Linked DNA regions of Homo sapiens: region 1 is linked to region 2. The links come from fine-mapping of genetic effects on gene expression. A gene starts in region 2. The other region holds a variant in brackets. All regions are shown on one strand. Distances are between the middles of the regions.

Region 1 (8,335 bases), 220 kb after region 2:
GAGCACTGTTCATGAAATTTATTTTTATTTTATTTATTTTATTTTTATTTTTTGATACAGGGTCTCACTCTGTTGCCCAGGCTGGAGTGCAGTGGCACGATCTTGCCTCACTATAGCCTCTGCCTCCCAGGTTCAAGTGATTCTCCTGCCTCAGCCACACAAGTAGCTGGGATTACGGGCCTGCACCACTACATCCAGCTAATTTTTTTTTGGTTTTTGTGGGTTTTTTTTGTTTTTTTTTTTTTTTGAGACAGAGTCTTGCTGTGTCACACAGGCTGGAGCACAGTGGCACGATCTCGGCTCACTGCAACCCTGCAACCTCTGCTTCCTGGGTTCAAGCCATTCTCATGCCTCAGCCTCCTGAGTAGCAGGACTACAGGCATGTACCACCATGCCCAGCTAATTTTTGTATTTTTGGTAGAGACATGGGGTTTCACCATGTTGGCCAGGCTCATCTCGAACTCCTGACCTCAAGTGATCTGCCCACCTCAGCCTCCCAAAGTGCTGGGATTACAGGTGTGAGCCACCACGCCTAGCCTTAATTTTTGTATTTTTAGTAGAAATGGGGTCTCCCATTGTTCCTTGTTGGCCAGGCTGGTTTCAAACTCCAGGTCTCAAGCAATCCACCTGCCTCGGCCTCCCAGAGTGCTGGTATTAAAGGTGTGAGCCATCGTGCCCAGCCTTGTTTATGAAATTTAAATGGCACAGTATACACAAAGCTCTTATGCCAGTTTTTGGCAAACTATAAGTGCTTATTAACTATGGTACTTAATACTGTCAAAAACAATATAATAATAAGTCTATATGCATATAGGAAGTAATCGTAGTACTATTTGACATACTCTCTTATAGTAAACTATTTGGGTCACTTTTCTTCTCTTAATAACCCTTAAAATCAGTTGAACATGGTCAAGTCCACTGGGACTATTCGTTGTTTTTTATAAAGAAATAAGCACTATTATAACAAAGTCTTGACAAACTAGGTATCTTATTATACATGTTGTCTTTGAACATAAAGATGAGAGCTAGTTTATGCTCTGTATCTTTTTCTTTTCTTCCTTTCTGAGGTGTTTGCAGAATTAACCAGAGAGAGCCTTGCTTCTCTTGGTATATAAACATAAGGATGAAAATGAAATAGCTAAATTTTCAGTGTTTTGGCAGCAAGACAAAGCTGTCTTCTTTAGGACTATCATTATGAAAGTTTTTATATCTGTTGCTTGTCAATTTGTGTTACTTCTCTTTTATGTTTGGGTATTTTCCCCTTAACTTTATTTGAACCTATTTTGTGATGATGGGGATTCTGACCATTTATACCTCATATAAGGAGAAGAGCATCTTTCTCGTGGCCCACAGGAAAGATCCTACAGGAATGGATCCTGATGATATTTGGCAGCTGTCCTCCAGTCTTAAAAGGTATGACTATCCTCACAGATTTTTAAATCCTGGTGTTGGATTTGCCCTGGCATGTTGTCATTATCAACAGAAGACTTATTATGTGCCTACTCTATGTGGATCATAGGGCTAGTCATATAAAATGAAGAAAGGAGTATGGATGATCTAGAAGGTTTGTCCTAGCCCTATAGTTCTGAGATTGCGTTATCACAGAAATGCTCTGAGGATAAACTGTGGGAGAAGGTACTTTTTCCTGTGGCCAGTTAACAGAGACGATTAAGCATACAAAAGTATAAAGGCCAAAGATGTGAGATCAGTTATCTTTGAAGAATTCCATTAGCTTCTGTGTCTTCTATGATCCTGTCTTCTCTCCACGAATACAATCAAGAATATCTGGAGCAGTGCACTGGGCAACTCAAAAAAAGCACAATCTAGAGTCTGTTTCTGACCAGTGTCAGGTATAACTTTGTGCAGCTGACACACATGTGTTTTGTAGGTACCAAGAACTAGGTTCATGTTCCAATTCAGTTTCTTTCTAGCTGTATAACTTTGGGTAAATCATATAAATTATCTGAGGTTTAGTGGGGTCAAAAATGATGCCTAGAGTTTCTGGGAAGATGAAATACCAATTATAATAATAGCAAATGTTTATTGAACATTTACTGTATGTTGGGTATTCTGCTAAATGCATTATCTCATTAAGTTTTAGAACACTCATTTTATAGATAAGAATACAGGCCCAAAGTTTAAATCAACTCTTCCAGTATCATATAGCCCAAAAGTGGTAGAGCAGGAATTCCAGCCCAAGTTTGAAACCAGAATTCATACTCGTAGTCACTATCTTAAAAACCTATTATACTTAACTGGTGCATAATAGCCGCACAAATTATAGGTACAATTATTTATATATGAAGTTAAGTGTAGCATCTGTGCCATACAGACTGTCTCATTGCCAACTTGTAGAAGCGCCTATGAGAAAGGGAAGCAGACCTTCATTCTGTTGTTGCAGCTGAGTTCTTGCTTATCTCCTGACAGGGCTTCTAGCTGCCCTTTGGCCTCAGCCATCATAATCTGCATCCTCTACCAGGCCACTGAAGCTGAGTTGCAGAATTCTAAAACCTAGCGGCATTATAATTTCATTATTTTTATTCTGACTTTTGTATTTTTTAAGAACTTTTATATAATTCACCTACCATACATACAGTTCACCCATTTAAAGTGTACAGTTCAAAAGTACCTAGTAGTATTTACAGATATTTGCAACCATTATCACAGTCAATTTTAGAGCATTTTCATCACCTCAAAAAAAAAACCTCTGTACTCTAGCTAATCACTTCCCTATCCTCCCACTTGCCTGAGCCCTGGGCAACCACCAGTCTACTTTCTCTGTTCTCTTTTATGGACATTTCATATGAATGGAATCATACAATATGTGGTCTTTTATAACTGGGTTCTTTCACTTAGTGCAATTACTTCCTATGTATACTGCACACAAGGTTCGTTCATGTTGTAGCATGTATCAGTACTTCATTCCTTTCTATGGTCAAGTAACATTCCATTTTGTTTATCCATTTGTTGACAGACATTTGGGTTGTTTCTACTTTTTGGCTATTATGAATAATGTTGCTATACATATTTGTGTACATGTTTTTAGGTAGACATGTTTTCATTTCTCTTGGGTAATACACCTGGGAGAAGACTTGTATGGTATGCTAACTCTCTTTGTTTGATGAACTGCCAGACTGTTGTCCAAAGTGGCTGCCCTATTTTACAATCTCACTAGCAGTGTACAAGGGTTCTGATTTTTTTCACGTTTCCTGCTGATTTTTACCAACTGCCGTATTGTTGGTGGAGTGGAATGTGAATGTTCTTGCTCTCTTCCCGGCTTTCTGCTGATGTCTTCTCCCTCCCCCACCTCACCGACTGATTTAGTAGCTTAACAGTGGCTGATTCTGATGTCTTATTCCCACTGCCAGGTCATGTGATGTGAAAATGGCAATGAAAGGTTTCACAGACTACTAGTTGCCACGTGCAGACAACACAAGCTATGTGACTCTCTCGCAAAAAGTGATTTTGTCACTCCCCAGCAAATTCATTATACAGTCTAAACTCCTTCAGCATATGAAGTATTACAGCATTCATCCCCTAGTGACATCTCCAGCTTTCTTTTATGCCCCTCTCAAAATACATTCTCTTACTCTGGCAATATTATGGAATTTGCAATATGCTAAGTTATCCAAGTTTCCAGTGACCCCGTACCTTTAAACATATTCTTCTCTCTGGCTTAGCTATCTTTCTGTAACCTGGCTCACTCCTACTTCCAAGAAGCCTTCCCTGACATACCTTAGTCTTCCTTAACATGCCTTAGTCTAAATTAGGTGGTCCTAGTTATTCTTTTTTTTTTTGAGATGGAGTTTCACTCTTGTCACCCAGGCTGGAGCGCAATGACGCGATCTTGGCTCACTGCAACCTCCTCATCCGGCTTCAAGTGATTCTCCTGCCTCAGCCTCCTGAGTAGCTGGGATTACGGACCCACGACCACACCCGGCTAATTTTTGTATTTTTTGTAGAGATGGGGTTTCACCATGTTGGCCAGGCTGGACTTGAACTCGTGACCTCAAGTGATCGCCTAGCCTTGGCCTCCCAAAGTGGTGGGATTACAGGTGTGAGCCACCACGCCCAGCCCATCCTAGTTATTCTTAAAAGCATTTATGCTTACCTCTGTTAGTTACCACATGGAGCTATAATTATTTAATATCTGTGTCTCCTCCTGGGCCCGCCCCCTCCTCCAAAGTGTGAGCTCCTTTACCATTCACTATACAGTAGAAACCTAAGCCCAGGTGGGACTTTCTCACTCACCCCTTGGTAACCAGACCCAGCCCAGGGCCTGGCGTGGCATGTTTTGTTATGTGAATGATTGACATTCATCTGGGCTGGGCTGCAGCCTTGACCTCCTAATTAGTCTTTGCCTGCAGCCCAGTCATTGTCAGCCATCCACAAAGTCCCCTATAACCTAGCCATCTCTATGAACATTCCCTTCTCTTTTTTTTTTTTTTAAACAACAAATTGGATCCACTGAAACTTTTATTTAACTTTGTAATATGAACATTTACCATATAAGGTTATAAGACAATATAAAATCTATCTCATTTCATTTATAGCATAGCTATAAATCAATCTAATCTCTCTTATTAATGTTTTATATATATATATATATTTTTTTTTTTCCTGCATACTTAGGCAATATTTTCCCCAAGGGATATATCATTCTCAGTAAACTACCGCAAGAACAAAAAACCAAACATCGCATATTCTCACTCATAGGTGGGAATTGAACAATGAGATCACATGGACACAGGAAGGGGAACATCCCTTCTCTTTCTTACCCTAAGTGAAACCTGACC[A/G]TAACCTCTGAGGACATATTTCCACTGCAGACTGCAAGTGGTGGCTGATGTTTCTCTCACAGCCTTCATTACTCCGGTACTACAGGTAGAGATGGGTCTCTCCTTTGCAGCTTCCAATGCGTCCTCTTCCCTAAAATCCCCCCTTTGAATGCATGTCATCACATTGTGCCACTTCTATGCCTCTTCTTTGCGGTTAAACACACACCTAGTCTTTTGAAGATAATTCCTGGCTCATTGGCACTCTCTCTAACATTTGTCCTTTCTTAAGTCTTGGTGATTGCCATATTCACATAGATGGTTATTCTAGTAACTTGGCCTCTCAGTTTTACTTCCTTTCTTCCCATTATCCTGTTTTCTATCATGCCTTAAACATTTATTTTCATAGACATACCCTAGTAGACCTTGCAATTAATAAGAACAAATTACCTGCAATAATTTCAGTTTTAAGTATCCCACCCTGACCATTGCTTCCTGTTACTCTCATTTATTTCCTTCTAGTTCTCTTGTCACGGCATTTCTTCTGCCCCAGTGGCATCTGTAACCCACTTCACTTCCTCCTTACCTGGCTTAGATTCCATGACACTTCTGTAGTCCAGTTACTCTCTCCCTGTCCTGGAGGATCTTTCATATCTTCCCTGTCCTCAAACCTGCTAGGCCTCCTCCCCCATCTTTACTCTCGGTTTTTTGTTGTTGGGAAGATAGAAGCCATCATAAGTCTACCATCACTACTCACCTACTTCCAAGTACCTATCTAAGGCCTTCCCTCCCTTGGGTCTATGGGATTCTATCTCTTCTCTCTTACTTGATGTTTTCCTCTCTGCTGGATCATTCCTTCTGACATACAAATATACTGTAATTTCTCCCAACTGAAAAAAAAAAAGGTTTTCTTTCCCCTTCTGCTTCTCACACAGTCTCCTCATTTCTCTGCTCTCCTTTTCTTCTTGTGCTATCACCTGGATCTGCTCTTGTCTCCTTTACTTGACCTGTCAGCAGCATTTGACATAGCTAATTACCCTTACTTTGTAATACTTTTTTTTTTTAACTAGGCTTCTCAGATACCACACACTTCTAATTTTCTTCTTACCTTAATGTTTGTTCCTCAGTCTCCTTTGTGATTCTTCATCTCCCATTTTTTTACATTTGAAATGCCACCAGGGCTTGTTCTGGAACCTCTTCTCTATGATGAAGATCTCTAAATTTGTATTTTCATCCTTGACCTCTTCTCTGAACTCTAAATATATTCTGGCATTCTTTTTGATGTTGGATCCTAATAGGCATCTCAAAGTCAACAGGTCCAAAACCTAACTCATCTCTCACTCATCCAAACCTGCCCTTCCCTCAGTTTTTCCCACTTCAATAAATGGCAGTGCTGTCCTTACAGAGCTCTGGAGTCATTTTGACTCCTCTTTCTCAGTCCTTCTTTAGTCTGTCAGCAAATCCTGTTAGCTCCACCATCTAAATGTATTGTCCAACCATTTACCATCTCCACAGCTACCATCCTCTCTCACATATGTTACTGTAATGATGTTCTTTTTTTGTTTTGTTTTTTTGAGACAGAGTCTCACACTTTCATCTAGGCTGGAGTGCAGTGGCGCGATCTCGGCTCGCTGCAAGCTCCGCCTCCTGGGTTCACACCATTCTCCTGCCTCAGCCTCCCAAATAGCTGGGACTACAGGCACCAGCCACCACGTCTGGCTAATTTTTTGTATTTTTAGTAGAGACGGGGTTTCACCATGTTAGCCAGGATGGTCTGGATCTCCTGACCTCGTGATCTGCCCGCCTTGGCCTCCCAAAGTGCTGGGATTATAGGTATGAGCCACGGCACCCGGCCCACTGTAATGATGTTGTAATGGACTTCTGCAGCCCTCTCTCCACCCATAGTCTATTCCCAGGACAGCAAGCAAAGTGATCCTTTTGAAACATAAGTCAGATCAACTCAGTCTTTTGCTCAAAACTCTCTCAGAGAAATTGCCAAAATCCTAAGGATGGCTTAGAAGTCCATACATGTCTATTCTCTGCACTCCACACACCGATGCAAACATACCCTCATCTCCTTGGCTCTCATCCTCTCCCACTTCATTCTGTTCACATTAGGCCCCTTTCTGTTCTTAAGACATTTCAGGGATGTTCTTGCCTCAGGGCCTTTGCACTTGCTGTTCCTTTTTCCTGGAACATTCTTTTTCCAGATAGCTTATTCTCTTACCTTTCTTGTCTCTGCTCAGACATCTGCTTAGTGAAGGCTTTTCTGCCCATCTATTTAAGAGAACATCTTCTTTTTTTATACTGTCTGTTCCCTCACACACACTAAAATGAAAGTCCCAAAAGGCAGACATTTATATTATGTTCACTGCCGTATATCCTTACCATCTAAAACTGCCTGTCACATATAGGTAGGCTCAGTAAATATCTGAATTAATGAACATTTCTAAAATGTATCAGGTCACAACTCATCAGATCATGGACTGCCACCAAAGCCATGTAACTGCCAATAAAACTGGGCACAGAAGTCTAAAAATTACTGTGATATCAATTAGCAGTTGGTCAGAACTTGAGAAAATATTTTGAGGTGTTGAAAATAGTTAAAGGAACTTCACTACTAGCTCTCCAAGTTGGGAGTTACTGCCTAGACCAACAATTATTGAGGAGCTGTGACCTTTTGAGCACTAGTTAATGATAGACACTGTTTTAGTCATGACAGTAATCCTGAAAGCAGGTGGAAGTTCTCCCATTTTAAACATGCAGAAATAGAGCCTCAAGAAACTGCTTCATTTAAAGATAATACTAGCTTGACAATCCACTGAATATGTCCTAATAAATGGAAACAGGGTGGGGGATGTCAGCCTACCAGTAATTGGTGTCATTAAACCCTCTTGAATGAATGGACATAGTAATGGCCTTCAGGGTACCTTGAAGTATAGCTAAAGGAATCTCTGGAGTTCATTTAGTAAAGCAGTTGGCATCCCTGGCCTGGGATCAGAGTAAAACCTGGAGCTAGATTGATTACAGAGTGCAAGGACTAGGCACCCCGGGATTGGAGAGCATCCTTGAAAGCAAGGGTTCTTCATTTATTTATAAAAATTTGATTGCCTACTAGAAGCCCAGCTAAGAGTATGAAGCAATTAAGACAACAATCTTTGCTCAAGAATCTCCTAGACAATCCTGATTCAAGCACCAGAAACAAAGGGAAAAGAAACCTCCCAGTCTAGTGAAGAAAGTAGTACACATCATGTCAACAGATAGGTAATTTTGTTGATACCATAAGAGCCTATTATTAGGCCTGGCATATGACAGGAGGTCAGTATTTGAGTTGAGTATTGATTGATGGTACTGTGGAAGACAGAGGAAACACATCTGACCCAGATTGGTAGGCTTTCCCAGAAAAGTTTATGCCCAAGTATAGTGTTAACAAATAAGAACTTCTCAGGTGAGATAGGGGAGAAGAGTCTGCGAGGAAAACCTGTCTAGCATGGCAAATACGAAGTCCAGAGATGAGAGAAGATGGTCCACGTGGTTTAAAAGTCTACAACAAGGTAAAGGAG
Region 2 (8,306 bases):
AGCTGGAAGGAGAGGTCTTGGGCTTGCAGGAAGAAACAGCCTTGTCTCCACCTGGAACTAGGCTGAATGGCCTTGCTCATATCTGAGTCTTTCAGTCCAGCAAGGAGAAGCTGGAGCCATCAGCTAGAGGGAAGTTTTGTAGTGATGTGGATGAGGAGTGAGGAAGGGGTAGTGGTGGGGTGGAACCATGCAGAGCTATCTGGGTAGAGGTGCTATGAGAAGGATGGTAGGGAATTCTGACAGCAATGCAATCCTCAGAAAGCAGCTGGAGGGGAAGCATTGGTACCTGGGGCTGCACTGCCATTTGTTCCAGTTGGCATCGTGCATTAAAGGGAGTCTGTGAATCCTTCTTCCCATGGTGGTCTGTGGTGCAGGTGGGGCCTTAGAGAAAAGCTATTTGGGCTTGTTCTACTCTAGGCTGTTGGCTTAAGCTTCTTGTATCATTTTATAATCTACCAAGCACCCTTGACAACCATTTTTAGGCGACACTTCAAAAACAACAAGCTAATGTCTCAGTTAGAGTACTTTGATGTAAACAACAGAGACTGTGAGTCATTTAAGAAAAAATGAAATTTACTGAAAGGATACAAAGAGTTGACAGGAAAACTGCAGCATCGGATATGGAAAATGGGCTGTAACCTAGGCAGGCTCGGCAACGGGAACCACAGCCAAGTCTGTGTCTCAGGTACAGCCTGGCATGGCCACCCTCATCATGGCAGGGCCACCCCCCTCAAACCCCACCAGGGCCCCACTGCTGTTGCATACCTACTGTCTCTGTTGCTATGAATAATTCTAAAATTGTCTCTATGTTTTCATGTCACTTGCTGAAGATGCCAAGCTCAGAGAATAGTGGCCAGGTGGCTGAGCCTGGGTCATGTGTCACGTCCTAACTGTTAGGGGGCAGGGAGAAGAATATCCCTTCAGGTTCAGCTTCCCTAGCCTCATCAATACTATATAGAATGGGGAATTCCCTAAATAGAAAGGAGGTTTGGGCCAGGCACGGTAGCTCATGCCTGTAATCCCAGCACTTTGAGAGGCCGAGGCAGGTAGATCACTTGGGCTTAAGAGTTCAAGACCAGCCTGAGCAACATGGTGAAACTCTGTCTCTATAAAAAATATAAAAGTTACCTGGGTGTGGTGTTATGTGCCTGTAGTCCCAGCTACTCAGGAGGCTGCGGTGAGAGGATTGCTTGAGCCTGGGAGGCAGAGGTTGCAGTGAGCCGTGATTGCTTACTGCCCTCCAGCCTGGGCAAAAGAATGAGACCCTGTCTCAAAAAAAAAAAAAAAAAAAAAAAAAAGAGAGAAAGAAAGGAAGGAAGGAAGGAAGGAGGGAAGGAAGGAAAGAGGTTTGGATGCATTTTTGTCAGTTTTCAATTTTCATCACAATCCCAGGCTGCTAGGCTTGAAACTTTAGAATCATCCTCATTGTTATTAGCTTCCCACATAGTGAGTGGCTCTCCAGATTTCTTAGGTGTGCCTTGCTCTCTGTCACCACTATTGCTTTTAGTAAGATTACTCAGCAATGGCATAGAGGAGAGAAGAGGCTGGAAATTGGAAGTTGGACTTCTACAATGTTAGTGCTGGAATGGTCCTTTGAATTTATCTATTGTAGTGGTCTTACCTAGGAGTATTCATTAGAATTCTTATGGCACTAAAAAAAAAAATACACAGCCTGGTATCCCCCACCTGGGTTTCTGGGTTCACTAGATCTGAGGTGGGACCTTGATATATACAGGTGTTTCTGAGGTGTGTCCCAGGTTGAGAACTGATGACTTTCTTTTTTTTTTTTTTTTTTTTTTTTGTGAGCCAAAGATTTATTTCTTCATTTCTTGCATTTGAAATACTCTTCGATGACATCCTTGGCCTGAGACTCCTTGCCATAGTCCTTAACTACTACACAACTGTAACCAACCACTTTATGGGGTTTCCCCTCTCTGTCAATTTTACAGAGGCCTACCCATTCTCCTAGTTTCTTGTTGTCATCAACCTTAATTAGGTTGATTTGGTGTTCAGCACAAAGGGCCTCCACCAACTTGACATACATAGGCTCATCACAGTTGGATGCAAGCACACAAAGATGGGCTTGGCGCTTGTCTAAGACTTTGGCAGCTTCGCGAATTCCACGTGCTAGGCCATCGTGGATGAGGGCGGTCTTCAGCACCTCTTGTAAAGCAGTATTAACCTCCATTACACCTCCAGCAGCAATGCCTTCCTCGGCCATGGCAGTGGGTTACGGGTGAACCTGAATCTTGAACGCACCCAAGCCTCCGCCTCCGCGCGACTCGGCGGCAGGAGGGAAAGGGCGAGAACTGATGACTTTCAATACTCTTTTTTTTTTTCGAGATGGAGTCTTGCTCTGTCGCCCAGGCTGGAGAGCAGTGGTGCCATCTCGGCTTACTGCAACCTCCGCCTCCCGGGTTCACGCCATTCTCCTGCCTCAGCCTCCCGAGTAGCTAGGACTACAGGCGCCCGCCACCACGCCCGGCTAATTTTTTGTATTTTTAGTAGAGACGGGGTTTCACCGTGTTAGCCAGGATGGTCTTGGTCTCCTGACCTCGTGATCTGCCTGCCTCGGCCTCCCAGAGTGCTGGGATTACAGGCGTGAGCCACAGCACCAAGCCTTCAATACTCTTGTTTTAAAAATGAGGAGATTGAGGCCCAGAAGGAAGTTAGCTGTTTGAAATCACACAGTGAGTTAGAAGGGGCCAAGACCAACCCCAGATCTCCTGGCTTCTGGTCCAGTGCTACTCAGACCTCTTGCTTTTTCCCTCTGCTAAAGGAAATTTTCTATATTTATTTGTATCCAAGAAAGCATGCTATGTTTCTGTGGCTCAGCTCCTCCAACAGTAAACAGATTAAAAGATCCAAACCATCGAGAGTGAACAGCCTGCACAAATGGTCCCATTTCTAATGATGGTTGGCTTGATCTCTGGATCACAGATCTCCTTTGTCAGAATCCGGGAAAAATGTCCTCAAGAACCTTAAGTTGGGATGGAAGTGGGCAGGACCCATGGATAAAGGATAGCCTAGCCAAGGCCATACTTCTGTGTCTGGCAGGATTCTGTCTGGGTCTCTATGCAAACAGGTCTTTGTTTTAATCACCCATTGGCCTTTCTTCAACTCTTGACTGTCCTTTAGCCATCTGGTTCTTATCTTGGGAATCCATCACCTTTTTTTCCCCCTGCTCTCTGAGTTAATCAATCACTCGGCACTGGATTGGTTTACCGCTAGCTCTGGGCAATCTCATCAAAACCCAGGGCTTCTCATGCCTTCTATTATATTATGTTGATTTTTTTTTTTGAGACAATGTCTCATTCTGTTGTCCAGGTTGGAATGCAGTGGTGCCATCACGGCTCACTGCAGCCTTAACCTCATGGACTCCAGTGATCTTCCTGCCTCAGCCTCCTGAGTACAGGTGAGTGCCACCATGCCCAGCTAATTTCTGTATTTTTTGTAGAGATGGGGTTTCACCATGTTGCCCAGGCTGGTCTTTAACTCCTGAGCTCAAGCGATCTGCCTGCCTCATCCTCCCAAAGTGCAGGCGTGAGCCACCGCCCCCAGCCTATGTTGCTTTTTTATTTTTCTCTCTTTACAAAACTCGTGTTATCCTATAAAGGTTTCCACTAAGAAATGCCATTTATTTAATGCTTCCCATTCTTTGCCCTGCTCCAAATCTATCCCAGGGCAAAGAAAGCAAAGAATGGGAGAACTACTGTAGCAGAACCACCTTTCCATTAGAGAGGGGTCATTCTTTCTCCTGGAACCTCTGCATCTAGAAAGGGCACTAGCATCAAAGTCCAAGCACCTCTCCCTAGCTCAAGCAGGAGTGACACGGTCAGAGCTGGCCTATAGGAAGCAACTCGAAGAGTGTGGAGGATGGATTAGAAAAGAGGTTGGGAGAGGGGAGACAATCAATCTATAGCAGCTACTGCAGTAATCTAGATGAGAGATGATTAGACCTGAATTGGGCAGTGGGAATGGGATGAAGAGGTGGGGAAATAGTCATTTTGATAGTGGAATTGACAGGACTAAATAACTGATGGTTTGTGGGAGATAAGGAAGAAGTTCAAGATGACTAGGTTTGGAGCTTGAGTACCTGGGAGGATGGGACCTTTCATAGAATGAAGGAAATAAGAAGAGCAGTTTTGAAAGGAGGATGGGAGACAGTGACATTAGTTTTGTACATGAGGAATGTAGGGATCTAAGAGGATGTTTCCATCAGGCAGTTGAATATGGAGGGCTGGACTCAGGAGGCCTGGGCTGCAGACAGCAATCTGGGAGCTCCTGAGGGAAGAAAATGTGGACCAGTGCAGCACGCAGAGTGAGAAGGGGACTGAGGCCTAAGCCTAGAGGAACACCCACATGGAAGCACCAAACACGGGAGACTGAGAAGGAGCCAAGAGCCTGGGAAAAAAACCAGGAAAGTGTGGTTTTACCAGCCAAGGGGGGCAGTTTCAGGAAGGGACATGGGGAGAGAGGATGAGGAGGTAGGATTGACAAGAGGCTGCTCCTTTTGGCAGTTAGTTACCACGGTGGGCCTGGTTTCAGTCACAAAGCTACCCCCATCCTTAGGAGAGAGCTCAGGCCCTCATATCAAATGAACACTAAGGCAGGTTTCTGAGTAACTCACATATTCCCCACTCACTTTCTCCTCAGTTATCAAGGCATTACAGGATAAGTACGTGTATCAAAGTTTAACATCGTTCAGAATTGCCAGTAAAGCCCCTCAGTTCCCACCTCTTTCAGTTCAGTAAGAGGAAACTGCAAGGACTTTTCGAGAGTGCGGCTGATGACCGCATAATAAAGAATAACTAATAAATATTAATGAAGTATCCCCTCTGGCCAATCAGGTCTGAGGAGAACCCTCTTTGGGCTCACAGAAGCCTCGCCCCTCATGAATATGTAGATAGCACTGCCCACCGCGCGTACTGCCCCGCCCTCCACTCTTCTCCCTCGCAACCGACTCTCCCTTCAAACGGGAAACAAGATGGCGGCTGCAGGTCCGAGTACTCGGGCCTCTTCCGCGGCGGCAGCAGCCGCTCTGAGTCGGCGGGGCCGGCGGGGCCGCTGTGACGAGACGGCGGCAGCTAAGACTGGGGCCCCAGGCCCGGCTTCTGGACCTTCGCTGTTGGTGTTGTCGCCGCCGTTGCTGCAGCCGCCGCTGCCGCCGCGGCCGGAGGAATCGGGCTGCGCCGGGTGCCTGGAGCCCCCCGGAGAAGCAGCGGCCCTGCCGTGCGGCCACTCGCTTTGCCGAGGCTGCGCCCAACGCGCCGCCGACGCGGCGGGCCCGGGTTGCCCTCGCTGCCGCGCCCGCGGCCCAGGCTGGGCCCGCCGTCGGGCCCGCGACGACGGCCAGGCCGACTCAGAGGTGCTGGGCGAGTGCGCCCGCCGCAGCCAACCCGAGCGCTGCCGCCCGCGCCGGGACGGGGGCGCGGCTGCCGCGGGGCCCAGGCCAGAGCAGGAGCCGCGTGCCGCGCCTGCGGAGCCAGGTGGAGCTTCCCCACTTCCCCTTAGGGTCTGGAGCGAGGCCGAGCGCGCCCCGGCCCGGCCTGGTGAGGGGGTGGAGAGTCCCGGGCCCTACTCGGGCGGGTGTGGAGAGTTCTCGTGGGATTAGAACCCGGGCTCTACCCAGGTGCAGTGTGTTTGTGAATTTTGAACTTCAGAGTGAAGGACAGGCACGTTGCATGCGGAGGGGCGGTGAGGGCACCCTGTGCCTTACGTAAGTCCGAAGTTTGGAGGGAAACAGAATTGTTGGAACAAGTTAGGGGCAGGTTGGAATTGGTGTGTGGGAGTGGGAGGGGCCTTGGATCAGAGAAGTGCTTGGTTTAATGTTGGATGAAGAGTTTGGGGGTCATATTGCTTGGAGAGATGTGGCTCCTGGCCTTGAAAGGGTCAGTGAAGGGTGTGGAGAATCCGGAGTTTAGGGAACAGGTTGAATTTGAGGATGTGAAGGGAGCTTTTCAGACTCGAGAGCAGAGGGGGTTGGGAGCACACTTGTGCAGTTGTTTTCATACATTTTGGAAAATGTATGCTTAGCACAGAACTTGGCACATAGTGAGGAAGCAGTAAGTGACTGTCGTTTATATTTGTAATACTAGTACTACTAAGTCCAGTAGTGCCTGACAGAAAAGCTGGCTTGGGTTTAAAAGTTTTGGAAACAAAGGTTGGGTGGCAGGGGCTGCTTCTATCTCCTTGGCAGTATGGGTTTCCTACTGGCTTGCTGGCAATTAAAAGTCTGTTGTAGGACTCTTGCCTTGAACTTCTTTCCCCTAACACCAGCAGCCTGCTATTCCTCGGTTCTGAGCTTTGAAATGCAAAGTGCCCTGTATAAAATAAGACTGTTATAACTTAGGATTCTTTTGGGGACACACCCAGTCAACATAACATCTGCAGCTCTGTTTGATAAAAAATGCTTACCTAGAATGAGATTTTCAAGAAACATAAATCACGAAAGGCCAGATATTTGTACCTTCTGTTTTGGGAATTCTGCCATGTGTTTTTTTGGGTAAGGAAAGAGAGGCATTGCTTGTGTATACAAGTGCAGCTTCTAGAAACCACAGGTTCTAGAATGCACTCTGTTTTGATTCAAGCCGCCAGAGACACCTGTCACTGTCCTAGGATATTGGGCTATTTTATTCCTGGGGTTGAGGGGGACCTGCATCTTACTTTCTATGTTCCTTGTCACTCCCCTCACCTTTTTTTTTTTTTTTTTTTTTTTTTTTGAGATGGAGTCTCGCACTGTCGCCCGGGCTGGAGTGTAATGGTGCGATCTCCACTCACTGCAGCCTCTGTGCACCACCCCTTCAGGTTCAAGCGATTCTCCTGCCGCAGCCTCCCGAGTAGCTGGGATTACAGGCGCCCACCACCACGCCCGGCTTTTTTGTATTTTTAGTACAGATGAGGTTTCACTGTGTTGGCCAGGCTGGTCTTGAACTCCTGACCTTGTGATCCGCCCGCCTTGGCCTCCCAAGGTTTTTTTTTTTTTTTTTTTTTTTTTTGAGACTGAGTCTCACTCTGTCTCCCAGGCTGGAGTGCAGTGGCCAATCTCTCAGCTGACTGCAACCTCTGCCTCCCAGGTTCAAGCGATTCTCCTGCCTCCGCCCAGTAGCTGGGACCACAGGCACGCGCCACCACACCCTGCTAATTTTTGTAATTTTAGTAGAGACGGGGTTTCGCCATGTTGGCCAGACTGGTTTCGAACCCCTGGCGTCAAGTGATCCGCCCACCTCTGCCTCCTGAAGTGTTGGGATTACAGGCGTGAGCCACTGTGCTCAGCCCTCGTTATTCCTTTTAAGCTTCACAACATCCCTATGAGATAAGTACTTTTATTTCCATTTTATAGATGAAACTGAGGTCCAGAGAGGTTAACTAACTTGCCTAAGGATGAAAACCCGATTCTATCCTATTCCTGCTCAAATCAGGGATGAAACGTCTTTAATTTTGTGGATGTGGTGTGATGGTTTCATATGCTACTTAATTTGCTTTATAGTCTGAGATTATGGTCACGATATAAGACAGTATTTCTCTGGTCTCCCTATTAGTACTACTGATTATATGGCCACATAGGATAGAAATTTTCATTTTGATTTCTAAGCTTGGAGACTGTTGTGAAATACCAGTTCTGAATTTGAACCATGAGAGGAAGTTTGGCTTGATGATTTGTGCAAACTTTTTCCCTTGAAGATGTTTTTGTCATAAAATTTATCAGTGATTAAGGGAAATTATCTAAAATGAGATTTCAAATTAGAATCTATTGAGTCACTTAGTATTCATTAATTACTTTATATGTTTATATGAGGACCAAAATGAAAAATGGTTTTCTTAAATGTTCTTGTTGTTGGATTGTTTTGTATATACAGTTATGTGCTTATTCAGTTGAAAAATTTTAGAATACAAAAATATTGCCAAAAGGCTTAGGAAGTATCTCTTAGCTTCAGTGGGTTGTCTGATCCTCTTGTAGTTATATACAGTATTTTTAAATTAAAATTTTTAATAGGCAGTGCATTCACAGGATTCAAACAAAAATGTAACAAAGTATACAATGAAAAGATTCCCTTTGGCCAGGCGCGGTGGCTCACCCCTGTAATCCCAGCACTTTGGGAGGCCGAGGTGGGCGGATCACAAGGTCAAGAGATGGAGACCAGTCTGGCCAACATGGTGAAACCCCGTCTCTACTAAAAATACAAAAATTAGCTGGGCATGGTGGTGTGTGCCTGTAGTCCCAGCTACTTGGGAGACTGAGACAGGAGAATCTCTTGAACCCAGGAGGCGGAGGTTGCAGTGAGCCAAGATTGCACCGCTGCACT

The links. PIP is the estimated chance that this variant, and not a neighbour inherited with it, causes the effect.
Region 1: its variant is fine-mapped to the expression of RNF169 in whole blood (INTERVAL, PIP 0.97).

Annotation. Positions count from the first base shown.
Region 1 is chr11:74,968,287-74,976,621 of GRCh38, forward strand. It overlaps SPCS2 (signal peptidase complex subunit 2), which reads left to right. Exons shown (of 5, transcript NM_014752.3): 4 at 1,279-1,413. It also overlaps the pseudogene RNU6-216P. Among named protein-coding and RNA genes, the nearest start is that of NEU3, 16 kb to the right of the region's middle. The variant A/G (reference allele first, on the strand shown) is at 4,797.
Region 2 is chr11:74,743,894-74,752,199 of GRCh38, forward strand. It overlaps RNF169 (ring finger protein 169), which reads left to right and starts at 4,956. Exons shown (of 6, transcript NM_001098638.2): 1 at 4,956-5,489. The coding sequence starts at 4,988. It also overlaps the pseudogene RPS12P22. RefSeq lists silencers at 4,787-5,007, 5,181-5,330, 5,361-5,620, 5,631-5,730 and enhancers at 4,981-5,070, 5,220-5,813.